2 linked regions of the Homo sapiens genome follow. The protein of the gene in region 1 purifies or fractionates together with the protein of each later gene. This does not show direct contact. Each region holds a gene or a part of one and is shown on either strand. Other genes may lie near its edges.

Evidence for each region.
Region 2: the proteins of FAT1 (region 1) and POMGNT2 purify together in Homo sapiens (affinity purification with mass spectrometry; 2 studies listed by BioGRID and IntAct, with this or other methods). This does not show direct contact.

The regions. Positions count from the first base shown.
Region 1 is NC_000004.12:186,713,831-186,720,869, reverse strand, and holds part of FAT1 (protocadherin Fat 1 isoform 1 precursor), read left to right. Parts: intron 1-7,039.
Region 2 is NC_000003.12:43,078,733-43,082,117, reverse strand, and holds the end of POMGNT2 (protein O-linked-mannose beta-1,4-N-acetylglucosaminyltransferase 2), read left to right. Parts: intron 1-581; 5' UTR 582-686; coding exon 687-2,429; 3' UTR 2,430-2,884; downstream 2,885-3,385. UniProt on the Homo sapiens protein: O-linked mannose beta-1,4-N-acetylglucosaminyltransferase that transfers UDP-N-acetyl-D-glucosamine to the 4-position of the mannose to generate N-acetyl-D-glucosamine-beta-1,4-O-D-mannosylprotein.

The sequences.
Region 1 (7,039 bases):
ATGTTATCCCTCTCTATATCCCCTCCCCAACACAGTCCTGCCTCACATTTCTCACTCTTAACGCTTTATTCATCTGTCCATTTACCAATCCAACAATAGTGGACCTCCTCTGTGTCAAACATTGGGCCAGACACAACATCTAGTGCTGAACAAATCGTGTTTCCTGCCCTCAAGCAGCTCGTAGTCTGATAAGGGAGAGGACAAGTACACAGTCTCTTATAGACCAGTGTGATAAGAGATCCATTCAGGTCAAGGTGGTCCATAGCAGCACCTCAGTGAGCTGGGGGATCTGGGGCAGGTGGATTTAGGATAATGTGAGTTCTGAGGGAAGTGTGAATCAGAGGGGAACAATTCAAGCAGAGGAAATGATGTGTGCAAAGCAAGTTATAGAAAGCATAGTGTGGCTTGTGGTGTGATGAGTGGAGAGAAATTCTGAAGACCTCACCGTACCATGTTATCTTAGGAAAAGGATTGGCTTCTTTTTTTTGTCTAGGTAGAACATAGAGAATCTTGACTATGACTTAAATAATCTTATTAAAAAAGGGAGGATTGTTTTTATGAGGCAGAGGTTAAGGAGAGAGAAAAAGAAAGAAACGTTGAAGAGAAAGGTGAAAACAAATAAGCTGTATGTGAGGAGTGGAGGGCAGGAAACAAAGAAAATAGTAATGTTTGCATTATCTTTCGGAAGGGAAGAGGTCAAGATGTTACATTACTTTAGAGCCTTCACCACTAGGTGGTGTTATTGGCTCAAGACAGCTTGGTTACTGAACTTGTTGCAAGTCTGGGAAGTATGCCTTTTTGTTTTGAAATAAGAAGTAGTGTTGGGAAATTAGGAAATTAGTTAGAGGTTAGATTATCAAAGGTCTTTAATGCAAGGTTAAGAATCATATACTTAGCAGGCTAAGGGGAAATACTGAATATTTTCAAGCTAAAGAATAATATCACAAAGAAGTTTGAATAGGTTGACTGGGATTGGGGGCAGAAAGCAGGAATACCAAAAGACTGTAGGAATACTCTGCATGAACAAAATACCCATTCTAACTAGGTGGTAGCAGCAGAAATGCAAAGGGAACCATTTTGAGAAATTGAGAAAGAAATGTCAAGTTTGGATAACTTTTGAGAAATGAAGGTTTGAGAGCCAGGAGGCTGTAAAGATTTTAGTCCATCCTTCAATTTCTCGAATACATAGAGTCGAAAGGATTAAGCAAGTTCCTTGAATTCACACAGTTGATTAGTGACAAAGCTGGAGCTAGGTTCCACATTTGATGTTCTCCCAACCCCTTCCTTTTTGTTTGATTTGTTAGTTTGCAAACTTGGTTGATTTGGGAAGTGGTGAGATTGGAAAATAACTGGAAGAGCTGTTATTTTGCAATGGCGAAAGGGTGAAAAGTCTATATAGTTGTCCCTTGGTCTCTAAGGGAGGTTTGGGATTTTATACCCAAATCTGAGAATGCTCAAGTCCCTGATATAAAATGGGGTACTATTTATATTTTTACTGTTTTATTGTTTATTTTAAAGACGTTCTCAACCTGAGGTTGGTTGGATCCATGGATGCAGAACTCTTATATAGTGAAGGCCAATCGTATAACTTAGGTTTGATGGTATTTTAGGAGGAATGTTACGAGGTGTTTGAGAGAGGTTAGAGCTGAAATTGCAGATTTGGTGCACTGATCCTTCATGATTTGAGGCAGAGTAGATGAGATCTTTAAGGGTGGTAATAAATGCATGTGGAGGAAGAGTTGGAAGACAAGTTTGTAATGCCAGAGTTGTAGGTGAGTCAGTGTAGAGTATAAAAGAGTATGGAAGAGAATCAGGAGAATGTTGTCATTCATTTTTCATACCTGTGGATTGCCTCTTTGTTTTGGGGGACTCTGTGACCGAATGAAGGATCAGGAGTGTTGGGGAGGGGAGTGAGTGGTGTCAAAGGTGTCATGAAATCAAGGAGGATGAGCACTGAGAAAAGGTCATTGGTTTGACATTAGCTTGTGATGCGGGAACGGCTGTTCTGCCAGGGTGGACCTGCAGGATCTCTGTGGAGCAGCGTTTGGCGGAGAGGGAGTTCTAAGGAAGCCAGGGCGGTGCTGTGAAACTCCTTTTCTTGCGATCTTTGCCAGTATAAAAAAAGAGAAGAATAAGAGTGTTTGTTTGAAAGAAGCAAAGGTTTGAATGAAGTTTATTTTATTTTATTTTATTTTATTTTTTTGAGACGGAGTCTGGCTCTGTCGCCCAGGCTGGAGTGCAGTGGCGCAATCTCGGCTCACTGCAAGCTCCGCCTCCCGGGTTCAAGCGATTCTCCTGCTTCAGCCTCCTGAGTAGCTGGGACTACAGGTGCATGCCACCACGCCCGGCTAATTTTTGTATTTTTAGTAGAGACGGGGTTTCACCATGTTGGCCAGGATGGTCTCAATCTCTTGACCTCATGATCTGCCCACCTCAGCCTCCCAAAGTACTGGGATTACAGGCATGAGCCACCGTGTCTGGCCAAGCTTATTTTTTAAGTAGGAGAAGAACCTGTGTGTGTGTATGGATTCTGCACAAGGTGTCAGGAGTGGGAGGAGCTGTAGAAGAGGCAGGATTTTGTGGTATCAGAGTATCTTTATTTGCAGCTAGGGTGGGTGGCATCTCTTCTGAGGTGTAAGAAGAGAGAACAGGTGAAGAGAACATTTTAAGAGGAGGAGGGAAGATGGACTTTTCTCCCTGAAGATTTCCGTTTTCTTGCTGTACATGGAACATTCACTTTCCTGGTCTGTCATTTAGTGAAGGGTTGACCGAATCTAATTATACAGGGAGCCCAATTCAACGTATAAAATAAAGTCTTACTTACCAACTTGGGAGTGGAAGAAGTGGCCATTGTTGATTATTGGCTACTCTGCCAAGATGTCATTTAAATTACTTCTGTTTGTGGAGAAAAATACATTAGATGAGATGATCTCCATTCACAAGAGGTCAACAGTCCATTGAGCTTCTCCTTGGGCAAAGTTTGTCCTGGAATGTGGATGAGGAGAAAGTGGTTGGAGGATAAGGAATATATAGAGAGGGGAAAGAAGAGAATAGCACAGGAATGCCTCACCCTGCCAGAAATAGACACACAGCCGCTGCCTACCTGTCCTGTCTTGTCGTTCCCAGGAGCACAGAACAACTAGAACCCGTCATCTTCGTAATGCCAACAGACATGTTTTATAGGTTCATGTAGATAACTAGGTTTTATATAGAGGCTGTTTGAAAAATAGGACATCTGTTTATCTTTCTTAAGGGCAGGAACACTTCAGGAATCTATTTTGGATTGATTAAATCATGTACATGGTGAAGTTTTCTGAAAAAGCCAGATTGTAGTTCCACACTGTCATTGTCAGTAAAGACCATTCTCAGGGTTAAATTGGAACCGGTGGTTGATCATGTGAAGGCAATATTTAAAGTATGTCTTGCTAGAGTTACCAGATTATTGCAGCCCCAGTCAAAGATAACAACATATAAATGGAGTTAGCAGAAGTGATTAAATGACATATACCAAGCCTAAGGCTGCTGCTCAATTTCTAGGGTCACAGCTTCCTCCGTTCATGCTGAAAATCATATGAAGATGGGTTGAAAAGAATTAGTGTACACCCAGAAAATAAACAGGATCTACTCATTAGTATTTCAGTGTAAGGATGAAAGCTTTTAAAAGTACCGACATGGCTATGATAATTGAACTAGAAAAATAGAGAGTTTTTTTTTTCCTGTTGTAAATTTTATTTGGAATGTCTGAAATTTTAGAAATCATTCAACATTCTTTTTAATATACAGTATTTTTAAAAAGCCATTTACGCTGGGTGCGGTGGCTCATGCCTGTAATCCCAGCACTTTGGGAGGCTGAGGTGGGTGGATGACTTGCAGCCAGGAATTCGAGATTAGCCTGGCCGTCTCTACTAAAATACAAAAGTTAGCTGGTCATGGTGGTGCATGCCTGTATTCCTAGCTACTCAGGAGGCTGAGGCATGAGAATCGCTTGAACCCAGAAGGCAGAGGTTGCAGTGAGCCACGATTGCACCGCTGTGCTCCAGTCTAGGTGACAGAACAAGACTGTCTCCAAAACAAACAAACAAACAAAAAAACTCGTTTACAATTCATAATCTCTTGACAACTTCATGATCCTGCTTTGAAAATGTGTTTGCCGGCCAGGCCCAGTGGCTCACAACTGTAATCCCAACATTTTGGGAGGTCCAGGCAGGTCGATCAGTTGAGCTCAGGAGTTCGAGACCAGCCTGGGCAACATGGTGAAACCCCATCTCTACAAAAATACAAAAAATTAGCTGGGCATGGTGGTACGCCCAGGTACCCCGGAGGCGGAGGCGGGAGGATCACTTGAGCCTGGAAGGTTGGTGCTGCAGTGAGCTATGATGGTGCCACTGCTCTCCAGCCTGGGAGATAGAGCAAGACCCTGTCTCGGGGGAAGAAAGATGCTTGCAATTTAGAGATCTCTTAAAAATACTTTAAAAATGTGACACTGAACTGAACTCGAAATTCCAAATTTTAATCATGAGTTAAATTCTACTGACGCTTTCACTATGTTGATAGAAAATGAGAGTGGAGAAGAGCACAGTGAGGGAGAACACAGAGTTCTCAACTTAATAATTTTGTGTTTTTATCATAACATGTGAAATGAAAAGTTTAATAATGTCCTGTTCCATAAAGGCTAGAATGACTACTTGTGCTTGTAAGAATTGTGACCGCTCAGTAATAAATATGCGGCGTTTAACAGAATTGGTGCATTGTGTGATGCTGTGTCTCACCTAATGTCCTGTCTCTGTGGCGTGTGAAACCCTTCGAAGACTTGAGCTTGAGGTCATCTAAACACTTGAATATATGCAGTTAGGTTTTCAGCACAGGGGCTGTGTTCTGTTTTGTGAAGAATGTGCAGTCACAGTAATTGATGGAAGCATTTTACATGAAGGTCTCCCTAATGAAGAAATATGAAGATATTAATATCTGATTTTTACTGCAAAAGTTATTTTTCTGCCGTATTTATAGATTTTCAGAGATCTATGCTAAAGATATTTAAGCTTTAGACTGGGAGCCCTTCTCCTTCAAGGCTAGACTAAGTAAACACTCTTTGTTTTGGCTTCGGAAAATGCATTTTAGAAATCCCAAATTGCAGTGAGTTTAAGTAGTGTGATCACCTTCTAAATATCAAAGTATAGCCCTTGGCTCAGATGGTCTTTGGAGTTTAATTTCCATAAGCAAAGGAGTCTAGGCGATAAGGTCCTTTTTAGATGAAATGGTGTTGGAGTCTCTCCCCGCTTCAGCTTTACTGTTTGTTTTGCATGAGAGCCACAGCCATTGTTTTGATCAGGGTGGTTTTTATAGTGAAACCTGAATTCGTGGTTCTTGGTTACATTACTGCACGGTTAACAATGTCTTCCAAAAAGTGTATTTTTTCATTTAATAATTTATTCTACTCACAGTAGCATTCTGTTAGCCAAGTTTGCAGAGTACATTCAGGTTTTTCAAAGATTTCAGTTAGGAATGTGGTCCACAAGTCCGTCCCAGCTGTATTGTGTCCCGTGAGAACTGCTGAGTAGGATGTGGAAGGTAATTGCATGTTTGGGAATCCAGTTGGGGATGAGTGGGTGGTGGTGGGGGCTGTGGTGGGACTGAGCACCTGGGACAGCATGGGGAGAGAACAGCCAAAGCAGTCTGACGTGTTGGCCATGGTCTGTGTGTCTTAGGGGATGGAACAGTGCCAGAGCCTTCTGGTGGGGGGATGGAGGGGGAAGCAGCGTGGCGCATCAGCAAGTACTTTTTTTTTTGTTTTTGAGACAGAGTCTTGCTCTGTCACCTAGGCTGGAGTGCAGTGGTGCGATCTCAGCTCAGTGCAACCTCCGTCTCCCTTGTTCACGCGATTCTCCTGCCTCTGCCTCCCAAGTAGCTGGGACTACAGGCGCACACCACCGCACCCAGCTACTTTTTGTATTTTTAGTAGAGACAGGGTTTCACCATGTTGGCCAGGATGGTCTCGGTCTCTTGACCTCGTGATCCGCCTGCCTCGGCCTCCCGAAGTGCTGGGATTACAGGCGTGAGCCACCGCGCCCAGCTGGATTAGTGAGTATTTATATTATATAGAACTCCAAGTTCTAATGTTAGGCTTCAGCTGTAGAAAAATCTTTATTTACTCACTGTTTCTTATCACACCACTATGCTGTGGTTCCCTTTCCTCCCTCAGTGGCCGACATCTCCCCTGTCAGGGCCTCCCGTTTGGACCCTTCAAATCTTGGGGTTCTGCTCTTGGATTTTTTTTTTCTTCTGCCTGCTCTCTTCCTTGGTGATCTCATTCAGTTCTGTGGTTTTAAATACCGTCTTTCATATTTAGACAACTCTCAAATTTCTATCTGCCGGCTGGAGTCTCCCACATATCTGCTGCCCACTCACAATCTTTACTTGGATAGCCCGTAGCTGTTCCCATCTTACCCTGTCCAAAACTGACCTCCCGATCTGCTCCCTGAGGCTGCTTCTCCTCCTGTCTCCCTCTCGGTTCCTGGCCCCCTTGTTCTCTACGCTGAGCAGTCTTTGGCATCTTCTCTGGTACTGTTCTCTCCTCCTTTCCCTCCCTCTCCCCACTCCAGCATCAGGCAACCTTGAAATAGATTCACAATCTGCCCCCCACCCCCGTTGTGCCCCAGCCCACACGCGCTCCACCTGTGTTGTGGCTGCAGCCTCTGACTGCTCTGGTCGCCCTCCAGCTTCTGCCCTGGCTGCCCACAGGTTTTTCCATTTTACTGAGACCGTGGCACTCCTCGGTTCAGAATCCGCTGGGGGACTTCTCATTTGATTCATACTAAACTCTAAAGTCCTAAAAATTGTCCTTTATCCATGAGTCCAGACGGATCTTGAGAAAAAAAAAGATTCAGGTTGGATGCAGTGGCTCACACCTGTAATCCTAGCAGTTCGGGAGGCCGAGTTGGGCAGATCGCTTGAGCCTGGGTGTTTGAGACCAGCCTGGGCAACGTGGTGAAACCCCGTCTCTATAAAAAATACAAACATGAGCCAGGCGTGCTGGTGGTTC
Region 2 (3,385 bases), on another chromosome or scaffold:
CAGTGCTTCATCACAAACAGCCCCAGAATTTCAGGGATGTTTAATCAGCTGTTGCTCAGCCCTGATGTCTATGTGTTGGCTGATCTTGGCTGCGTTTGGCTGATCGCACTGCTGCTCTTGGCTGGGCCCACTCAGTCATGAGGGATCAGCTGAACTAGAACAGGGCATGGCCGGAGCAGTTCTGCTTCATGCGTATCTCGCTCCTCTTGGGGCCAGCAAGTTAGCCTGAATACATTCTTCTTATGGCAGTGTCATAAAGAGGGCAAGGCCAGCCCAAACACTTTCCAAACCTTTGATTATGTTCTGTCTGCTGACATCTCACTGGCCAAAGCAAGTTAAATGGCTAAGCCCAAAGTCGGGTGTGGGGATGCACTTTCCAACATGGAGGCGATGGGGAGGGAGAGAATATTTTAAACAATGGTCTAATCTACCACGCCTACCAATGTGCACAATGGCTGCAAGGATCCAGTGCTGTAGCGGGCACACAGAGCCTAGCTACCGTGCCTGGCACATAGCAGGAGCTTGTAATGATGCCAGGAAGACTGCCAATTCCTTTTTCTTTTCCTTCTCTCCTCCTGCAGGCTTTCACCAGTTCTCAGGATGCCCATAGGGATGGGTGAAGCCTGCCTGGCCTGTGGTGCTTCCCAGTGGCCGTCATCTCATTAGGGCCCCACAGTGGCATTAGGATGCACCTCTCGGCGGTGTTCAACGCCCTCCTGGTGTCGGTGCTGGCAGCGGTCCTGTGGAAGCATGTGCGGCTGCGTGAGCATGCAGCCACACTGGAGGAGGAGCTGGCCCTCAGCCGACAGGCCACAGAGCCAGCCCCAGCACTGAGGATCGACTACCCGAAGGCACTGCAGATCCTGATGGAGGGCGGCACACACATGGTGTGCACGGGCCGCACGCACACAGACCGCATCTGCCGCTTCAAGTGGCTCTGCTACTCCAACGAGGCTGAGGAGTTCATCTTCTTCCATGGCAACACCTCTGTCATGCTGCCCAACCTGGGCTCCCGGCGCTTCCAGCCAGCCCTGCTCGACCTATCCACCGTGGAGGACCACAACACTCAGTACTTCAACTTCGTGGAGCTGCCTGCTGCTGCCCTGCGCTTCATGCCCAAGCCGGTGTTCGTGCCAGACGTGGCCCTCATCGCCAACCGCTTCAACCCCGACAACCTCATGCACGTCTTTCATGACGACCTGCTGCCACTCTTCTACACCCTGCGGCAGTTTCCCGGCCTGGCCCACGAGGCACGGCTCTTCTTCATGGAGGGCTGGGGCGAGGGTGCACACTTCGACCTCTACAAGCTGCTCAGCCCCAAGCAGCCTCTCCTGCGGGCACAGCTGAAGACCCTGGGCCGGCTGCTGTGCTTCTCCCATGCTTTTGTGGGCCTCTCCAAGATCACTACCTGGTACCAGTATGGCTTTGTGCAGCCCCAGGGCCCGAAGGCCAACATCCTCGTCTCAGGCAATGAGATCCGGCAGTTTGCACGGTTCATGACAGAAAAGCTGAACGTGAGCCACACAGGAGTCCCCCTAGGCGAGGAGTACATTCTGGTCTTTAGCCGAACCCAGAACAGACTCATTCTGAATGAGGCAGAGCTGCTGCTGGCACTGGCCCAGGAGTTCCAGATGAAGACAGTGACAGTGTCCCTGGAGGACCACACCTTTGCTGATGTCGTGCGGCTGGTCAGCAATGCCTCCATGCTGGTCAGCATGCATGGGGCCCAGCTGGTCACCACCCTCTTCCTGCCCCGTGGGGCAACTGTGGTAGAGCTCTTCCCATATGCTGTCAATCCCGACCACTACACTCCCTATAAGACGCTGGCCATGCTGCCTGGCATGGACCTCCAGTATGTAGCCTGGCGGAACATGATGCCAGAGAACACAGTCACACACCCTGAGCGGCCCTGGGATCAGGGGGGCATCACCCATCTGGACCGGGCTGAGCAAGCCCGTATCCTGCAAAGCCGTGAGGTCCCACGGCATCTCTGTTGCCGGAACCCCGAGTGGCTCTTCCGAATCTACCAGGACACCAAGGTGGACATCCCGTCCCTCATTCAAACCATACGGCGCGTGGTGAAGGGCCGGCCAGGACCACGGAAGCAGAAGTGGACAGTCGGCCTATATCCAGGCAAGGTGCGGGAGGCACGGTGCCAGGCGTCAGTGCATGGCGCCTCCGAGGCCCGCCTCACTGTCTCCTGGCAGATCCCATGGAACCTTAAATACCTGAAGGTGAGGGAGGTGAAGTACGAGGTGTGGCTGCAGGAGCAGGGGGAGAACACCTACGTGCCTTACATCCTGGCTCTGCAGAACCACACCTTCACTGAGAACATCAAGCCCTTCACCACCTACCTGGTGTGGGTCCGCTGCATCTTCAACAAGATCCTCCTGGGACCCTTTGCAGATGTGCTGGTGTGCAACACGTAGCGAGCAGGCCACAGCCTGGCCTCGGGAAGGTGGCTCCTGCAGTTCAGCGTCCCTGGGCCCATTAATCCCACTGTGGAGACTTCTGGGAACTATTTATTGAGCAGGCCTGTGCCTCCACATCATCTTGTTGTCTCTGGGGTGTGGTGTCACAGCACTCCTCTTTGCCCTAGAGATAAGGGACCTGACTTCCCCTTCTCCCATCCTGAACATTTGTACCCCTGGAGAAGTTCCTTAGCAGGGAGGAGGAAGAGGAGAGGAGGAAGCAAAGAATCACAAGGAACCTCTGGCTAGGTGATCCTGATGTTTCCTACTGAGTTTTTCTGGTATCCAGATTTCTGGAAACCGAGTAATCATGTACTGTTTGATTGGGTGGTTCATCTGCTTCCATCCCAGTGAAATTTACCTGTAGCCCAGTGAAGGGTGTGTTTGGAACATTCATTAAATGATTCTAAGCATCTTGGTCAAGTCTTCTTATTGGATGGGAGGAAGGGGAGCTGGTCGTCAAAACCCAGGTGCCCTTTAATCTTGATTGTTAGCTAGGGAGACGTGGCAATGGGAAAGCGCCCAGGATGGCAAAGTGAGCAAGCTGGTTGGATTTCATCTTGACTAGCTGGACTAATATCACAGTTCCACCTACATGGGATAAAAGCCTAGAAGTAGGTAGGAGAGGGCTGAGGGGAGGAAGAGCTGTATCCACCATGGGTTTTTTTTTGGGCTCAACTAGACATTAAGACTCGCAAGACCTGGACAGATCATACCTGGCATCAGAGTTTCTTAGAAGGATGGAGAGAGATGCTCAGCATGCCAGCAGGGCCATGTCAGCAGTTCCCTTCCACAGGAGCAGTCCTTACATCAGTACTCCTGAGGGCCACCTTGATTCAGAAGCCCATGCCCCATAGGAGTCAATGTGTTTTCAACAACCCACAATCAGAGTTCCCAGGGTCCCTCAAGGGACA